Linked DNA regions of Homo sapiens: region 2 is linked to region 1. A link means that fine-mapping ties the variant in region 1 to the expression of a gene that starts in the linked region. Tissue or cell type: subcutaneous fat. Region 1 holds a variant in brackets; the other region holds the start of a gene. All regions are shown on one strand. Distances are from middle to middle.

The links. PIP is the estimated chance that this variant, and not a neighbour inherited with it, causes the effect.
Region 2: it holds the start of DYNLRB2-AS1, and the variant in region 1 is fine-mapped to the expression of DYNLRB2-AS1 in subcutaneous fat (GTEx, PIP 0.95).

Annotation. Positions count from the first base shown.
Region 1 is chr16:80,513,570-80,521,679 of GRCh38, reverse strand. All of the region lies in intron 2 of DYNLRB2-AS1 (DYNLRB2 antisense RNA 1), which reads left to right. Among named protein-coding and RNA genes, the nearest start is that of DYNLRB2, 23 kb to the left of the region's middle. The variant T/G (reference allele first, on the strand shown) is at 4,078.
Region 2 is chr16:80,558,545-80,566,654 of GRCh38, reverse strand. It overlaps DYNLRB2-AS1 (DYNLRB2 antisense RNA 1), which reads left to right and starts at 3,520. Exons shown (of 6, transcript NR_120307.1): 1 at 3,520-3,626.

The DNA of each region.
Region 1 (8,110 bases):
CCATTCTAGAATGTCCAAGTGCCACCCTTCTGAAGGTGTTTAGTTCAAGAGTTTCCATTTTCATATTAAGTTTCTATCTCCATACCTAGTGGGATGAAGATGGTGGTGTATGGATTTTCTCTCTTACAACATTTTTTGTCCCTTATCTATACATCTTTCCCCTAAATATTCAGTAAGATTTGAAGCTGTTAAAAAATCCTAAACTTCTCCAACTGTAGGAAAGATAACTGGAATATTATTTTAAGAGCAAATACATGTACATTCCTAATGTTGCTCGAATGGGAATTATCAAGAAGAAGAAGAAGAAGAAGAAAAAAAAAAAAGGAAAACAAACCCATGAGAGTTTGGGTTGCTATTTCTGACCAAGTTTGAATTGGGAAATACCAGGAGTCCCATAGGAAATCTTATCTCACCGGAAGACGATCATGGTCTCTTGGCCAAAGAATGGGTATGCATTTTTGTGTAAATAAAACTTGCAGACTCAGACAGAGGGCTGGTCTACCTTGCAGCTTAGCATGCCATTTATTATCATTCACAAGGTGGTGTTAGATGCTCAGCTTTAAAAAGAAATGACTTTTCAGCAGTATTTTTACCCTTGAGAGTATATAGGGAGAGCTCTGTGTTGTATGTTAATCAGAGCTTTCACAACTTGCTTTGAATGGTCTTTGAAATGTGTCTGGAAGAAGAGTGAATGAACTATGCCCAAAGTGTGCTCTATTATTTATTACTCAGGAGCCTTTCCATCTGAGACATAGGCTGAAATTAAAGGCACCAAGTACCTGTCTTTACTAACTCAATGTTCTTACAATTTCCGTTCCCTGTGTACTCATGCCACCTGCAAAGGATTCCAGGATTTGATGCTTCATCAGACTCAGTTTTTTTTTTTTTTTTTTTTTTTTTTTTTTTTTTTTTGAGACGGAGTCTCACTCTGTCGCCCAGGCTGAAGTGCTGGAGTGCAGTGGCGCGATCTCAGCTCACTGCAAGCTCCGCCTCCCGGGTTCACGCCATTGTCCTGCCTCAGCCTCCCGAGTAGCTGAGACTACAGGCACCCGCCACCACGCCCGGCTAATTTTTTGTATTTTTAGTAGAGATGGGGTTTCACCGTGTTAGCCAGATGGTCTCGATCTCCTGAGCTCCTGATCTGCCCGTCTCGGCCTCCCAAAGTGCTAGGATTACAGGCGTGAGCCACCACGGCAGGCCAAGCGTCAGTTTTTTAATGAAAATTGTATTTTAATATCTGTATTTTAAAATGCCCCACTCCTTCTGTGGATGTACAGGTCTCAGAGCACACCATGCTTTGCAAACAGTTAGCAAACATGCTTGGGAGCCGTTCCTCCTAAACTCATTTCTCTCCCTTTTCTCAGATGGGAAACTCTTACTTATCCTACAAAACCTAGTTCAAATGTTACTTCCTCATGTACCCTCCCTGACTGTCCCAGGCAGTTAGTTGACTAACTGTGCCCCGTTATCCTTTCCATATACCTTTATCACATGCATTCTCAATGCAGGTAATATTGCCCCCAAGGGGCACCGACTGGTTATTTGGAGAGGGGAATAAAAAGATTATTTTTATGTATAAAATGTAGATATATGTAATACATAAACAGATACACAGTATATAAAATTTCATGGTAGGAAGAGATTAGGAAAAAGATATCTAAAATGGCTCTTCTGGTGGTAATCATGAAAAAAGGTTGGGAAATACCTGCTTTATCATAGTATTTGCCTCTTGTATGGCAGTTGACACTGTGTATTAGACTGTGTATCTCTTACAAGTTAGAAAACCATGGTTTTGAAGCCTCAGCCCCTAGCACGTAGTTGGCGTGTGTATTAGCATTCACTAGTTATTAATATCTACTTGAAGGACATAATGATTGAGATGTTTGCTTCCAAGCATGATTGCTGCACACCAGAAACTCCTGCAAAAATTGTTTTTAATGTCACTTGCTGGGATCTAACTCCAGAAATTCTACCTCAGTGGATCTGGAGTAGGGACTGGTTCTATGTATTTTTAAACACTACCCAGGTGATGGGATTTAGAAATTGTTGCTCCAGCCCGATAATTTTTTTTCTTTTCTTTTGAAAATGTCTCCATTTATAAAAACCAAAACCAAAATCAAAATAGGTGTTTTATTCATGTGTTGGTATTTCCTGTGCTGGTCAGACCACAGAACACCGGTTTCCAATCAGGAAACCATTTTCTAAAGGAACATCAGCAGGCTCAGGCATTTCCAGAAAAGCTCAATGACATGAGCTTTTCTATTTGGTGAGAATTTTAGACCAGAGGATTATGTGAATGTGGCAAGCAGCATGGTCTGGCTTTGTGGGGTGGCTTAACCCCAGGAAGTTCCTGGGCAGGGTTTCTTTTGCTAACCTGCTGGGCAAAATGGACAGATATGAAAGGTGAGGTCGTTTTGTGATTGAATGAATGTCTAGGGACTGGTTAATGGATGCATGAGAGGGCGATTTCTACTGGCAAGACCTGAATTCTTTCTTTAGTCCTGTCCTGGAAAAAAAAATCATTTTAGTGATTTGAATGGCTCTGTGGGAGACACATTTATTAAATCTATGGATTGCACATACCAAAGAGGAGTAACAAATGCATAGAAACGCAATTCTTCAGCAACTACTCAGTAGGTTAGATCAGAGGTTCTCAACCCTTTTAGACCCAACACCCTCTTTATATGAAATATTTTGAAGTGCCACTTTCATTATTGTGAACTGAATGTCTCAGCCACCTAGACATGTAATTTCCAAACTTTAATATAAAGCCCTAAATGTAGTATAAAGGAGAAATAAAGGGCATTAAAAAATAAAATCACACTAGGAAATAATGACACACGATTGGTTCTGCCATAATACTTGTTTTGGAAATGCAAATTAATTATAGCACGACTGATACAGGAAGGAACAAATAAACATTTCCGTTTGCTTATGCATGATTTCTTTCATGAGCAACACGAGGTGAACAGAGGAAACTGCAGCCAGCTGAGTCCACTTGCATACGACTCAAACATCTCCCAGCAACCTCAGTTTTTTGCATGTGGTGAGTCGTACCCATCTGCAGCTGGTGTTACACCCTTTCTTCTCATTCAGACAACTCTTCTTTCCACAGAAAGGTGCAGCCTCTGAGTGACTCTCCACAGTAACTCACAAGCTGTACGTTTCCATGGCCCACAGGTACACAAGCAAACTTTTGGTCTTTTTCAAGGTAAAGTACCATGTGCGTTGTAGTACTTATATATTTCTTAACCATTTAACATCTGTAAAACCATGCAACCATTTTTATTTGTTTCTTTAAATGTGTCAATATTGAAGTTTTTGAATGTTATGCCGTGTGATTTTGCATAGCGAAGTGATTTGTAGGAATGCATATATTATATTATATCAGAACTGATTGTACTTAGATGCTTGCCTCTGATGTAATGAATTAGTTTGAATTTAAGAGAAAACAATATTCAATTGAATATTGTTGACACTTTTTCTTTATATTTGACATTTTGAAATAAAAATTTAACAGGTATATTATTAATGGTAAAAACTGCAATTACTTTTGTACCAACCTAATAGGACCTATGCATAGAATTATCTTAGTGGAGCAGCTCAAATGTGGATCAAAGCAGTTGAGCTACTCTGGTGACTCATATACCAGTATTGCCACTGTTGTAAATGTGTGATTTTTCTAAATGATGAATAACTTCTGAAGTTCTGAGCAAAACAAAGTATACTTTTCCCTTCATTTACACAGCGGTCGCTTTCCTGGAGAATTCATTTACATTAGCCCCATGCAAAAAATACCTATATTAATAAGTAAAATGAAATCAGCTTCTGGTCATTTTTATACATATGTATAGGGATTGGCATGTGGGAATGGGAAGTGAGACAGTTCTCTTATCCACTATGCAATATCCAAGCCCCTGCTCACTAAATGCCACAGTGTCCCCTCCCCCTTATGTGACAACCCAAACTGCCCCCACATATTTCCAGCATGTCCTCTGGTGAACCATTGGCCTGTAGCAATGGACTTCTAAGCTATAATTAGGATCAACATAAATTTCTTAGGTTAAGAAAATAACT[T/G]CAGAAAACAGAATGGAGAGAATGATTAAGCACAAGAAAGGCTAAGAAGAGTTCAGAGACTTTTGTGGACGGCAAATGAAGTATTAGTAAATAATGTTAAGAGACCTAATGTCCTCAGGCTGATTGGAAGAAGTACAATAACTGGATCAGTGCTGTCTAATAGAAATACAATGTGAATACGTACGTAATATTAAATTTTCTAGTAAGCAAATTAAAAAAGATAAGAAATAGGCGAATTGACTTGAATATATTTTATTTAAAACAACATACAGAAAATATTATTGTTTTGAGATGTAATGGATATAAAAAGTGTATTAATGAGATCCTTAATTTTTTTTTTCTTCACTAAGTCTTTCAAAATCCGGGAGTATTTGCTCACAGTATAGCTCACATTTCAAGTGCCCATGGGTTCTGTCTTGCTCCTGAGCAAGTCTTATTTGGTTATCACAGCACTTACAAATGGAATTCTGTGTTTTCTAGGATGCTGCTGAGGGTGGGATGAGAAGTCCCAACTCAAACTGTCTTAAACAATGAAACATTTGTTCTCATACAGAAATTAAAGTTAGGGTACGCTCTAGGACTGGTTGGTTCAGCGATTCGTGGCATCATCAAGGATGCAGGTGCCTTCCATGTTTCCATCCTGATTTTCTCAATGCGGGTCCTGCTCCTCAGGGTTGTAAGGTGGTGGCCAGTGGCAAGATGGCGGCTCATGCTTCTTTGTTTGTGTCCAACAGCAGGGATGAAGACATTTTTCCCTAAAATATGAAATATCCATTCTTTCTTTCAGACATATTGGGCAAACATGCCATGTCTCGACTGACTTACACAAATCATCTGGGTCAGAATATTGGATCCCTTCTTGTGATTGATGCAAGAATGGCTTTGGCTGGACATTTTCTTTTCATTTACTCACCATGAGGCACACTATTTCTTGTTGTCTTGTACTTGCTTTCTTTATTCAGTTACTCTACGTTTCTGTCCCTGGAAGTGTTTGAGTTTGTGGCTGCCTCTTAAACACAGGCTCCAATCATTGTTGACGGAGCCACACATGCAACATTGCATTAAATTTTGATGTGAGAGGATTTAAGAGAATGAGAGGAGGTTTAAAGGAGAGAGCTAAAGTGAAAAGGGAATTGACATCATGTCGTATGAGGAAAGTCGAAGGGAATGGCCTTGTAAACCTATGAGAAGTGGAGGGCTTGTGGGTGGGATAGAATACCCTCATCTTATCGATGAGGGTATGTCTACTTGTAGCAGTTCTGTGCTCCCATCAAATTAGCTGCTTCAGCCAGGCGTGGTGGCTCATGCCTGTAATCCCAGCACTTTGGGAGGCTCAGGCGGGCAAATCACTTGAGGTCAGGAGTTCGAGACCAGTCTGGCCAACATGGTGAAACCCCTCTCTACTAAAAATATCAAAATTAGCTGGGAGTGGTGGTGAGCGCCTGTAATTCCAGTTACTCAGGAGGCTGAGGCAGGAGAATTGCTGAACTTGGGAGGCGGAGGTTGCAGTGAGCTGACATGGCGCCACTACATTCCAGCCTGGGCGACAGAGCAAGACTCTGTCTCAGAAAAACAAACAAACAAACAAACAAAAAAACAGAAAAGAAAAAGATTAGCAAATTAGCCGTCTCTAATTTGTTCTGGATCTGGAAGCCAGATAATGAAACTTGTTAGAATAACAAATGGGCTGTGAATGAGAGGCTGAGGTGCTGTCCTATGAATATAGTGTTTATATATTAATTCATGAACTGGGTTACCCCTTGCCCACCTCTCTCAACTCACTCCTTTTTGAGATATATATTTGAGGCCTTAAGCTTAGTTCTGGGTAGGCTTCTAACACATCACCTTGTTTCTGTCTCAAGACCTTTTCATTTTCTCTTCCCTCTGTCTAGAGTGCTGAATAACAAGAAAGGTCATCAAAGACATGATGAAATATTTTTAGATATTTTTAAGACAAGCCCCAAAAGTGTCTCTCTTACTTACATCCTATTGGCCACATGGTTCTAATCTAACTCCAAGGGAATCTGGGAAATGTAGTTTTTTGTGTACCCCAAAAGAAGAAACACATAGCACTACCTCTGCGATGTGATCCTTGGCGGCCAGTCTCACAAGGGTTCATTTTTGACCAACGCCAATAGAGTTCAAGAGAATCTCTTCCTTGAAGGAATAGTTCTCTATCATCTCCAAGTTTTAGCGCCACCCACACAACACTATAGCCACGCACATGAAGGGAATATGTTCCGAAAAGGAGCTAAATCAACTAGCTAGTGCATCTTCACCCTTTGATGTGGGAGACTTGTGTTCATTTCCCTAGGGCACCCTTAACATCTTGCACCACTACGTGTAACCCCTACGGAATCCAGACATTAATAGTTCTTTGGGCAATTCACAATCAAATGAATAGCCAAGTTATAGTAAATAGGGAGAAAGTAGAAATCCTTCTAAGTCAAAGGGAGTGTAGGCCATTACTATGTTATAGAAGGAATTTCAGGACAGAGGGATGAACTGTTCCTCAACCCCAGAGCAGTTATAATAGTTAACACTGGCCATGTGCTCACTGTGAGCCATGCCTTGTGTGAACATATTCCACAAATTACTTTACAATTCCTACAACAAACATCTGAGGGAGTATTCTTATTCCCATTCTACAGATGAATACATTGAGACCTCCGGAGGTCAAGTGACATTCTGAAGTCATGTGATAGTGAATGGTGGTGTGTAATTCCAACCCAGCTGTCTGAGTCCAGAGCCAATATGTTACACTCTAATGACTCTGGACCCTGTGAAGTTAAATTCAGAAACCTGAGATTGTGCTGCTCCTCAAACTAGGATTGATGTCATCCTATGAAATAAAGAGCAAGTTTGGGACTCCTGCCTAATGACCCTGTGGAACTGATCAGTGTCACATGATCCTAATCATGTACAGCAGAGACACACATGTACATATATAATCTCAATGCTCTAAAGTCAGGTGTGCCATTGGGCAGTACACAATCAATTGTCAAACACATGGCACTAGCAATTGAGTGTTAAGCTGTCTCTACAAGGTATAAATAAGAATGTGGAAAGAAAGAAGTTTGCTAGATACAGGATGCCAGCTGTAATTTCAAGAAAATGTTGATTGCATGTTTTAGGAACTATTCCACAAAGCCTTGCTCCAGTACAGATTTTCCTTGTAAGGTAGCATGAAAAAAAGAGAGAGAAATTTTTATTTTTATTTGGTGTTTATTGTTTCTTCGTCAGCAGCTGTGCCGATGTGGTGTTGATTATGCAGAGAAGAATTATTTTGATTATTGACAGTTGGCATTCTTCTCATAATTTGGAGTTCTTCATCTCAGAATTGTTTCCTCACCTCCTCTCCTGTCTGCACATGAATAAAAATTTAAACGCACTTGCCAGGATTCTTACCCAAGGCAGCTGTTAGGAGGACTGTAGTTGAAAGTTCAGATGCAATTTGATGTAAACCTCTCCCTGCCGTTTGTTCCTTTCTGTGAGCCTGACTTCAGAGCAATGGAGCTTGCATGGTTCATCACCAGCATCTGAAAGGCCTCCCCACAAAGAAAAAGCTATGCTCTGTGTTATGGCTTCATCCCCCTGCAACCTTATCTGCTGGCTGTGTGCCCCTCTCTCCCAGCAGCGTTCATTCGGAAATGTACTTCAACGGGTTACCCGTCAGGGTTGGCTCACACGAATACTCTGTGCTACTTTCTGTATTTTTTTCTTAGAAAAAAGACTGCTTAGAAAAACAAAAACAAAAGTGATCTATAGATCCCCTTTCAGGTGATTTTCTTTTGCCTTTTTTTCTTTTCTTTTTCTTTTAAGACAGGGTCTCACTCTGTTGCCCAGGCTGGAGTGTAGTGGCAAAATCACGGCTCACTGCAGCCTTGAACTCCTGGGTTCAAGCGATCCTTCAGGTGATTTTTTAAGTGGTATATGTAACAGAGTTCTTTGGCTCCTTGTCTTGCATCTCCTTGATCTAATTCTCTTTCAACTTCAGGTGAGACACACCTCAAATGACAGAATCCCACATCAA
Region 2 (8,110 bases), 45 kb before region 1:
AGGGCAATCCCTAATCTATGTTCTGTCTCTGTGGCCTCTCAGAGACTTCTGGCACCAGTCTCTCCAGTCCATGAGCTGTGAACTCCCTTTTTAGCACATTTGGCCCTGACACCTGCCATCTTACCTTTGCTTCTGGACACCCAGATTGAATCTTCCCTAAAAACCAACTTTGCATTGTTTGCCCAACATTTGAACCTCCTTCCTATATTTGTGTAACTGCTCAGTGTATGACTCATTTTCGGAGGAGTCAGTGGCCATCTTTCTCTATTAAGGCTCAAGAAGATAGATTCCTGCTTTCCCAGACTTCCTTGCAACGAGTCCTTAGATGGGTGTGCTAGGCTCAAGCTCAACCAGTGACTATGAATCTGGAGCCAGTGGCCTGAAAAGTCAGGGGTAGTGAAGAATCTTTGCTGTTAGTGTGGTGGTAGCAGTAGTAATGTCAAAGGCCTACTGGCAGCAGGGCTGTGGGCCCATGGCAGCGGGACCATGCTCAAGTGGCACTAATGTCTGCATTGGGCTGGCTGGTTCTGATTTTGGCTGTCTCTTAGACTCTCTTGCTCCTGGGCACTGTTTAAGCTGGTCCTCCAGCCTTCTTGGCTATTGAGTGAGCTAGATCCTATCTTTAAAATAGATTTTCTTTCAATTAAAATCATCCAGAGTTGGTTTCCATGCTTGCAGTTAAGGACCCCATCTGGAAGAAGTATTTTATGAGTAGAGTCTTAACCAGAACGGGTCATAGGGTTTTGCCTCAGAATACTGCAATTAAGAGGGCACCATATTTTGAAGCTTGAACTCCCTCCCCCATGCTCTTCCTTATTCCTGTTGCAGTGCTGAGCTGGCCTCTTCTTCTGAGACCAGTACCTCAGCAGCAGGTGAACAAAGACAGAGATGGAGACTTAGGATCAAAGGCACTGAGTGCCTGACCAGGGGTCCCTCTGTGAGGCAGGAGAACAAGCCCCTCCTCTGTTTCTTTGAATTTCCTTGTTTAGAAACTGAATTTCTGGGCCAGGTGTGGTGGCTTACGCCTGTAACCCCCGCACTTTGGGAAGCTGAGGCGGGTGGATCACCTGAGGTCAGGTGTTTGAGACCAGCCTGGCCAACATGGCAAAACCCCATCTTTAATAAAAATAGAAAAAGCAGCCTGGCATGGTGGTGGGCGCCTGTAATCCCAGCTACTCAGGAGGCTGAGACAGGAGAATCACTTGAACTTGGGAGGTGGAGGTTGCAGTGAGCTGAGGAGCTGAGATCGCACCGTTGCATTCCAGCCTAGGTGACAAGAGCAAAACTCCATCAAAAAAAAAAAGGAAAGAGAAAGAAAGAAAGAAAAAAGAAAGAAGAAAGGAAGGAAGGAAGAAAGAAAGAAAGAAAGAAAGAAAGAAAGAAAGAAAGAAAGAAAGAAAGAAAGAAAGAAATTGAGTTTCTGGCTGCTTGTTGTGGGTTGAATCATGTCCCCACAAAACACATGCTGAAGTCACATCCCCAGTATCTAAGAATCTGACCTTCTTTGGAAATAGGGTTGGTGCAGATGTAATTAGTTAGGATGAGGTCACACTGGAGTAGGGTGGGCTCTTAATCCAGTAGGGCTGGTGTCCTAGTAAGAAGAAGGAGGATGACACAAAGACAGACACACAGGGAGAATGCCGTGTGACCCTAAGAGCAGAGGTTGGAGTGGTGCCGCTACAAGCCTGGGATTGCCAGCCACCACCAGAGCTAGAAAGATATAAGGAGGGATTTTAGCTTCAGGAACGATGAGGAGCATTTACGTTGTTTTAAGCCACCCAATTTGCAGTAAAACTCAAGGAAACTAAAACATCTTTTGAATCCAAATTCCTGGCCATAGCTCTGCTTAACAGGACATCCTTGGAAGCAGACAGAATGGGGTTTGAGTCTCAGCTCTGTTACCACCTGCTGCATGGGTTCGGAGGTAAGCTGTTTACCTCCTTGACATCTCCATTTCCTCATCTGCAAATCAAAGATGAACATAGCTTCTTCAAAGACTGTTAAACATTTAGAGGAGTGCACGGCACATAAACGGCAACTATTAATATGAAAGAACTGCTTCCTGTCAGTATCTGGCCCTGATGGTCGCTTCCTGTTGAGGGAAACAAGTCTAAAACCTGCTCTTAGAATACAGATCAGTGCCACGGATTATTCAGTTACAATGAATTTTCTTTTTTTAAGAAAAGAGATAATTCCGCGTTTGCTATGTTTTTCCTTCCTATTTTTAACATCTATCTGTACTTTTAGATTATGGTGCAGGTAGCCCTCTTTCCCAGGAAAAGTGAGTGCTTCACAAGGGGTGCCCACTTTTGCCCAAGGACAGAGCCTCCTCCAGCCAGCTAGGGTAGAATGGGAGAGGGTGCAGGTGCTGCCCAGGCCAGTAATCTAGCTGCCGATCTGGGGGACACTCAAAGCAGCTGGTGGCTTTAATATCCGCTCTTCACAGCTTCATCTCCACTCGAGATGGCTGTGCTGATTGTAATGCAATAAAGCTGGAGTTTTGCGGGGAGAATGCTGTCCCTGGTTATTTCATTTAGAAGCCATCGTAATACTCTTCAGGGAGAGATAAGAGTGATTTAAGTAATTCAGGGCTCCAGGAGTCCAGGACATTTATGGTTCCTTCTAACCCTGGGGAATTTTATGATTTGAGGCCTGTGGCCACAGAGCAAAGCCAGCCTGCTGTTGATATGGGGAACAGATTTAACAAGTGTGAGCACCTGTCGGTGCCAGGTGATTTATACACAACTATCCATGTTTACCTTGCAACAATCTTTAGGGAACATCGGACCAGGTACCCTAGAAGTGGACCCTGTATAAAGATTCCTATGGATGGGCGCGGTGGCTCATGCCTGTAATCCCAGCACTTTGGGAGGCTGAGACAGGCAGATCACCTGAAGTCAGGAGTTTGAGACCAGCCTGGCCAACCTGGTGAAACCCTGTCTCTACTAAAAATACAAAAAGTAGCTGGGCATTGTGGCAGGTGTCTGTAATCCCAGCTACTCGGGAGGCTGAGACAGGAGAATTGCTTGAACCTGGGAGGTGGAGGTTGCAGTGAGCCGAAATCATGCCACTGCATTCCAGCCTGGGCAACAGAGACAGATGCTGTCTCAAAAAAACAAAAAACAAAACAAAACAAAAAAATCCTGTGCATGTGACTTATTAAGGAGGAACTCCCAGGGAAAACTGGCAGAGGAGAGGGGGAGAGGGGTGAAAAGAGAGAGAAGCCCAAGAAGAGTGTGATTTCAGGCCGAGACCTGTGGAGGGGAGCTTGAGTTTGCTCCTGCAGGGGAACCCTGGAGCGTACAGTGCACCTGTCCTGCATGCCAGAAAGCTGGAGTTCCATACCCCTGCACCCGACAGTCACTGGCTCTGGGCCTTGAGGCTCAGCATAAATAAACTCCCAGGCACCTGTGGTTCCCATCTGTGCCTGTAAAAGGCTTTAGCAACCCAAGGGCAGTTGGATGCAAAAATACCCAAGGCCAGCAGATGAACATTGAGCAGGAATAAACAGAATACAAGGACATCTGGGTGGAAGTCACCAGTGCCTGCACATGGAACTATGAAGATCACCATTTTTCAGATTAAGAAACTGAGGCTCACATTGTGAAATAACACTCTCTGGAAAGGTGAGTGGCCGGGTCTGGATTTGAACCTATGATTCCAGAGTGTTTGTTTTTTCCACTGAGATTGCTGGATTGCTGGTATCTGGGGACCAGTGGCTGAAAGCATTGACTTCTCTGGTTTCTTTTTCCTGTTAAAAATATTTATGTTAGTTTTTATGCCTAAAAAAGCAATAAATAGCAATGAGAACAAGTGATTTATGGCTCCAGCATAATATGGACAAATCTCACTAGAGTTCTGATGATTGAAAGAAGCCAGACACAAAAGAGTGAGATTCTCTTTATACCAAGTACATACACACACACACACAGAGAAAAAATTCTTCTCTGGTGATAAAAATCAGGCTCTTGGTGACTCTTGGGGGTGGGCATTAGGGACCGAAAGGGAGCCCCAAATGTACCTTTTTGGAGCTGGTCATGTGTAGGGTCTTGATTTGGGTGTTGGGTTCACGAATAGTTTCAGTTTGTTAAAATTGCTCAAGCTAGGTACTTAAGTGATGTGTGCTCTTTATATGCATGTCATGCCTCAATACAAATTTAAATTGAAGAAGAAAAGTGTAAAGGTGGAAAGGGAGAAAATAAAATTGGGCATAATCCCACTCACGCAGAAATCACTGTCATTAGCTCGGCATGATGGTGGGTGCCTGTAATCCCAGCTACTTGGGAGGCTGAGGCGGGAGAATCACTTAAACCTGGGAGGTGGAGGTTGCAGTGAGCTGAGATCCTGCCATTGCACTCACTTCAGCCTGGGTGACAGAGCGAGACTCTGCCCACCCCCACAAAAAAGAAATCACTATGATTAATGTTGTCTTGATGTATATCTTGTAAAATGTTCCCATGTGTGCACACACAAACAAATATGCCCACAAACACATGTGAGGGAGTTTCTGGCTGTGTTGGAGGTGATTATCCTAACCTTGAGCGTGGACCATCTTGTCTTCTGTATTGACAGGAATAGAAAGTACACCAGGGTCAGTGGTCTGGGAAGAGGTGGAAAGGGATAGGTCCAAGAGAACCCAGATGTCCCGAGGATCTGGAAGGTGGAGCTCCCAGTGATGAGTGTTTTCATTTAAAGCATGTGTCCCTATTTGCATCCCCACCACTGCCGATGTGGATTGTGGCCACATTCACAATTCGTTTACTCTTTTATTCAACAGACATTTGCTGAGCACAGACGAAGTGCAGATACTGAACAATGCACAGGGTCTGGGGAGACAGATAGTGAGAAATAAGGCTTAGTTTCTGAACTCAAGAAGCTTTGAGTCAAACAGTGCAGCTCTGAGCAAGATACTGCCCTCATAGGAACCTCGTTTTCCTTATCAGAAAAATGGGATTAATAAGGCCTGCCAGGCTAGGTAATTTTGAAATCAAGTGGGGTGACATTCATAAATAACTATAACAAAGCATAGACTCCTTTACTCTACACTGCGTTGCACACGTGCTCTAGGAACCTGGTTTGAGCCCAGGTTGTGTTCACACTGGGATCCAGGCACATCTAGCCGATGAATAAGCTGTCTCTATCAGAAATACGTTTGCATGCATGTTTAGGAGCTCCCAGGAAAGAACTCACCCTAAGTGAAGAGGAAGTCACGACAAGCAGGCTTAACTTGGTAAGACCACCTTCTCTGAGTGAAAGAACCATTCTGATTAGAGAATGAGGTCTATATCTAGGAAACTTTCTGAAATGTGAAAACTCAAAGAGTAGACTTCCCAAGGTGCCCAAACAGGACTCCCGTCTTCTAATTCCAGACGGACCTTGCAGGTGGCAATCGTGCATGGGAGGACATGGTGGTGGCAGGTGAGTGGGGTTGTATCCTCTAGTTCAGTGGTTCCTGTAGGAAGTGTCTGTGATGTTCAGAACTCAGTAGTTCTGGAAGGAATGGCATTGTCCTGTGGACATGTGAGTGCCAAGGGAAGAGGGTTGGAGGAGGTGTAGGGGAAGGTCATGGAGATGCCACATGGAAAATGGGTGGACTGGCTCACTGGCAGCCTGAGGCTCCCCTGGGAACTCACAAATGCTTGGGGGCATGAAACCTGGCTGGGGAATCAGGATTCCCTACTTTGGGTGGATTTTACAGGAGTCTGCTTTCTCTTTCTTTTAGTCAGGATGGGGGCATACCTTGACTTATATACAATAGTCCTTTTCTTCTCTCAGGGTTCCTGACTGTGGCTGTGGGTGGCCTGGACTTGGCAGTGGAGGGAGATTCATTCAGAGAAGAGCGATGGAGCTGCTATGTTCACCCACTTTCCCAATTATAGCCCCTCTCCTCCAGGGCATTTGCTGGGGGTGGGGGGTGGCGGAATAAAGTCCCCTGACTTGGAGTAGTGCTTCTCAAAGTTTAATGGGAATGAGAAAATCCTAGGAATCGGGTTAAATGCAGATTCTGACTCAGTAGGTCTGGGATAGGGCCTAGGATTCTGCATTTCTGACAAGCTCCCAAGTGGTGCTGGTGCTGCTCTTCCCTGACCACACTTGGAAAAGAAAGACACGAGAAGTGATAATCAGAATCCTGGGAATCTGGATTCTTAAGTACCAGGATTTTTAAGTATCATAACTTGCTGTTATGATCAGGCAAGTGTGGAAAACCCTGGAATAGATCATCTTGAAAAATAAGCTGAGATTTGAAAGGGTGTTTTTAATTCAAGTTTTTATGAAGTATCTACTTGGTGCTGGTTAGATCTGGGAGGGGCTTGGGACACTGTCCAGGTATATTGAGTGCTATGTGACTTTTCATTAAATAAAATTTGTGGGTTTTGGTGGGAGAAAATGCAGGGAGAAGATAGATCCTTGTTTGTAAGTCATTTCCAGATGTGAAGAGAGATGGGGAACCCACACAACTAACTGATTTTGCAGGAGGTGACCATGGTGGTAATTTCAGACACCTCCAAAGAAAGAATGAAGTCATCAGACTTGATGAGGGGAGTAAAACTGGAAGGATCTAGGGTGGCCTGACAGTATCAAAACTTTCAAAAGGCCATCCCAGTTCTGACTTTAACCATTGCAAATGCAGAATTTGTATTGCTTAGTTCAGTGGTTTCCTAAGTCTGCTTGTATAGCCCTGGGGTTCCATGAGACTCTGGTGAGGACCACTGTGTGTTAAGTGTGGAGTGGCCAAGGGCAGGATGAGAGAATGGCATGGAAAAGGAGCCCCGTCCTGCTTCATGGAGAGTAGCTTTGCTGGCCTTTGATCAAGGTTCTGTGTGAGCAAAGGCTACTGTTTCCTAAAGCAAGGTTTGAAAAGCCACTTGCCTAGAGCATGCCCTCCTTTGGGGTTCCTTCTGTCCAGATAGTGCTTTCTCTCTTCTTTCCACCGTAAACTCCTATTCCCCCTTTATAGTCCAGCTCAGGTGTGTCTGTCCTAATGCAGCTTTCCTTAAACACCATGCACACCAGCAGTCCTTTTTCTGCATTTCCACTGTCCCTCACTCATACTTCATGTGCTGCTATTAACTTACTGTATTGAACATGTACATCTCTGCATGCCTGTTTCCCTTATTACACCAGGAGCTCCTTTAGGCAGACCTGACGTCACCCATGTCTGTTCACGGGCATAAAGTGTGCCTGGCTTAAAGCAATTATGGTTAAATGCTTGCAGAATGGGATGCCACCTGGTTAATGGTTCTCTGATTAAGAAGCACACCTTCTTTCCGTTAGAGCCTTAGATGGAGCCAGCGTTTTTATTAATTCAAGATTTCATAAACGGTTAATAATCTCTCTTTGCCTCTCCTGGAAATTGCCAGGTTTGGCAAGAATAGGTAAACATGTCCGATAATATCCCCTTTCCTGTCCTCCTGCCCTCACTGACGGTGTTGTGCTTTTAATTTTTTTTCTTGGCGATACTAGACATTTACTTTCCTCCACTTCCCCTGAGATATGACCGAATACCCAATGCAAAGGTTCAGAGTTGGTGAACAACTTAAAGCTCATATTGAATACAAGATCTGGCTGCTGGCACCATTTGGGGCATTGCAGTCTGATGATTCTTTTCCCAGAGATGTGGGACTTGCTGATACAGGCCTCCCATTTATGCTCCCCAAAGGGTGCAGCTGAGATGGCTGGAGCCTGTTCTGAGAAGCCGGGCCTTCTGCTCTCCTGGCATTGATCAGGAGGCTCCAGATATTTCCTTGAGGCTATTCAAGAAGCAGAAAGTTGTGCAGGAGCAGATACAGAAGGAGGCCTGTGAGAGTCAGTGACCTGCCTTGATTCATTTTGCAATGTGAATTGAGAACTTCAAGCTTTGAAGCTGCTAATTAATTGGTCAGGATCCTGTCTTGAGTATTTTTAGGAGATTTAGCTAACTCTGTCTTCTTCAAAGGCACTGATTACCTTGGTGGACCTTTTTTGCAACCAATCTTGTGATCCAGGGAGCAGTGTTCCTAAAGTAGGAAAATAGGATGGGGATAAACATTGATCATTTAACCCTCAGACACTGGGCACCCACCATGTGCTAGATTTTTCTGCCAGGTACTGGGATAAGAATAAGGCAATG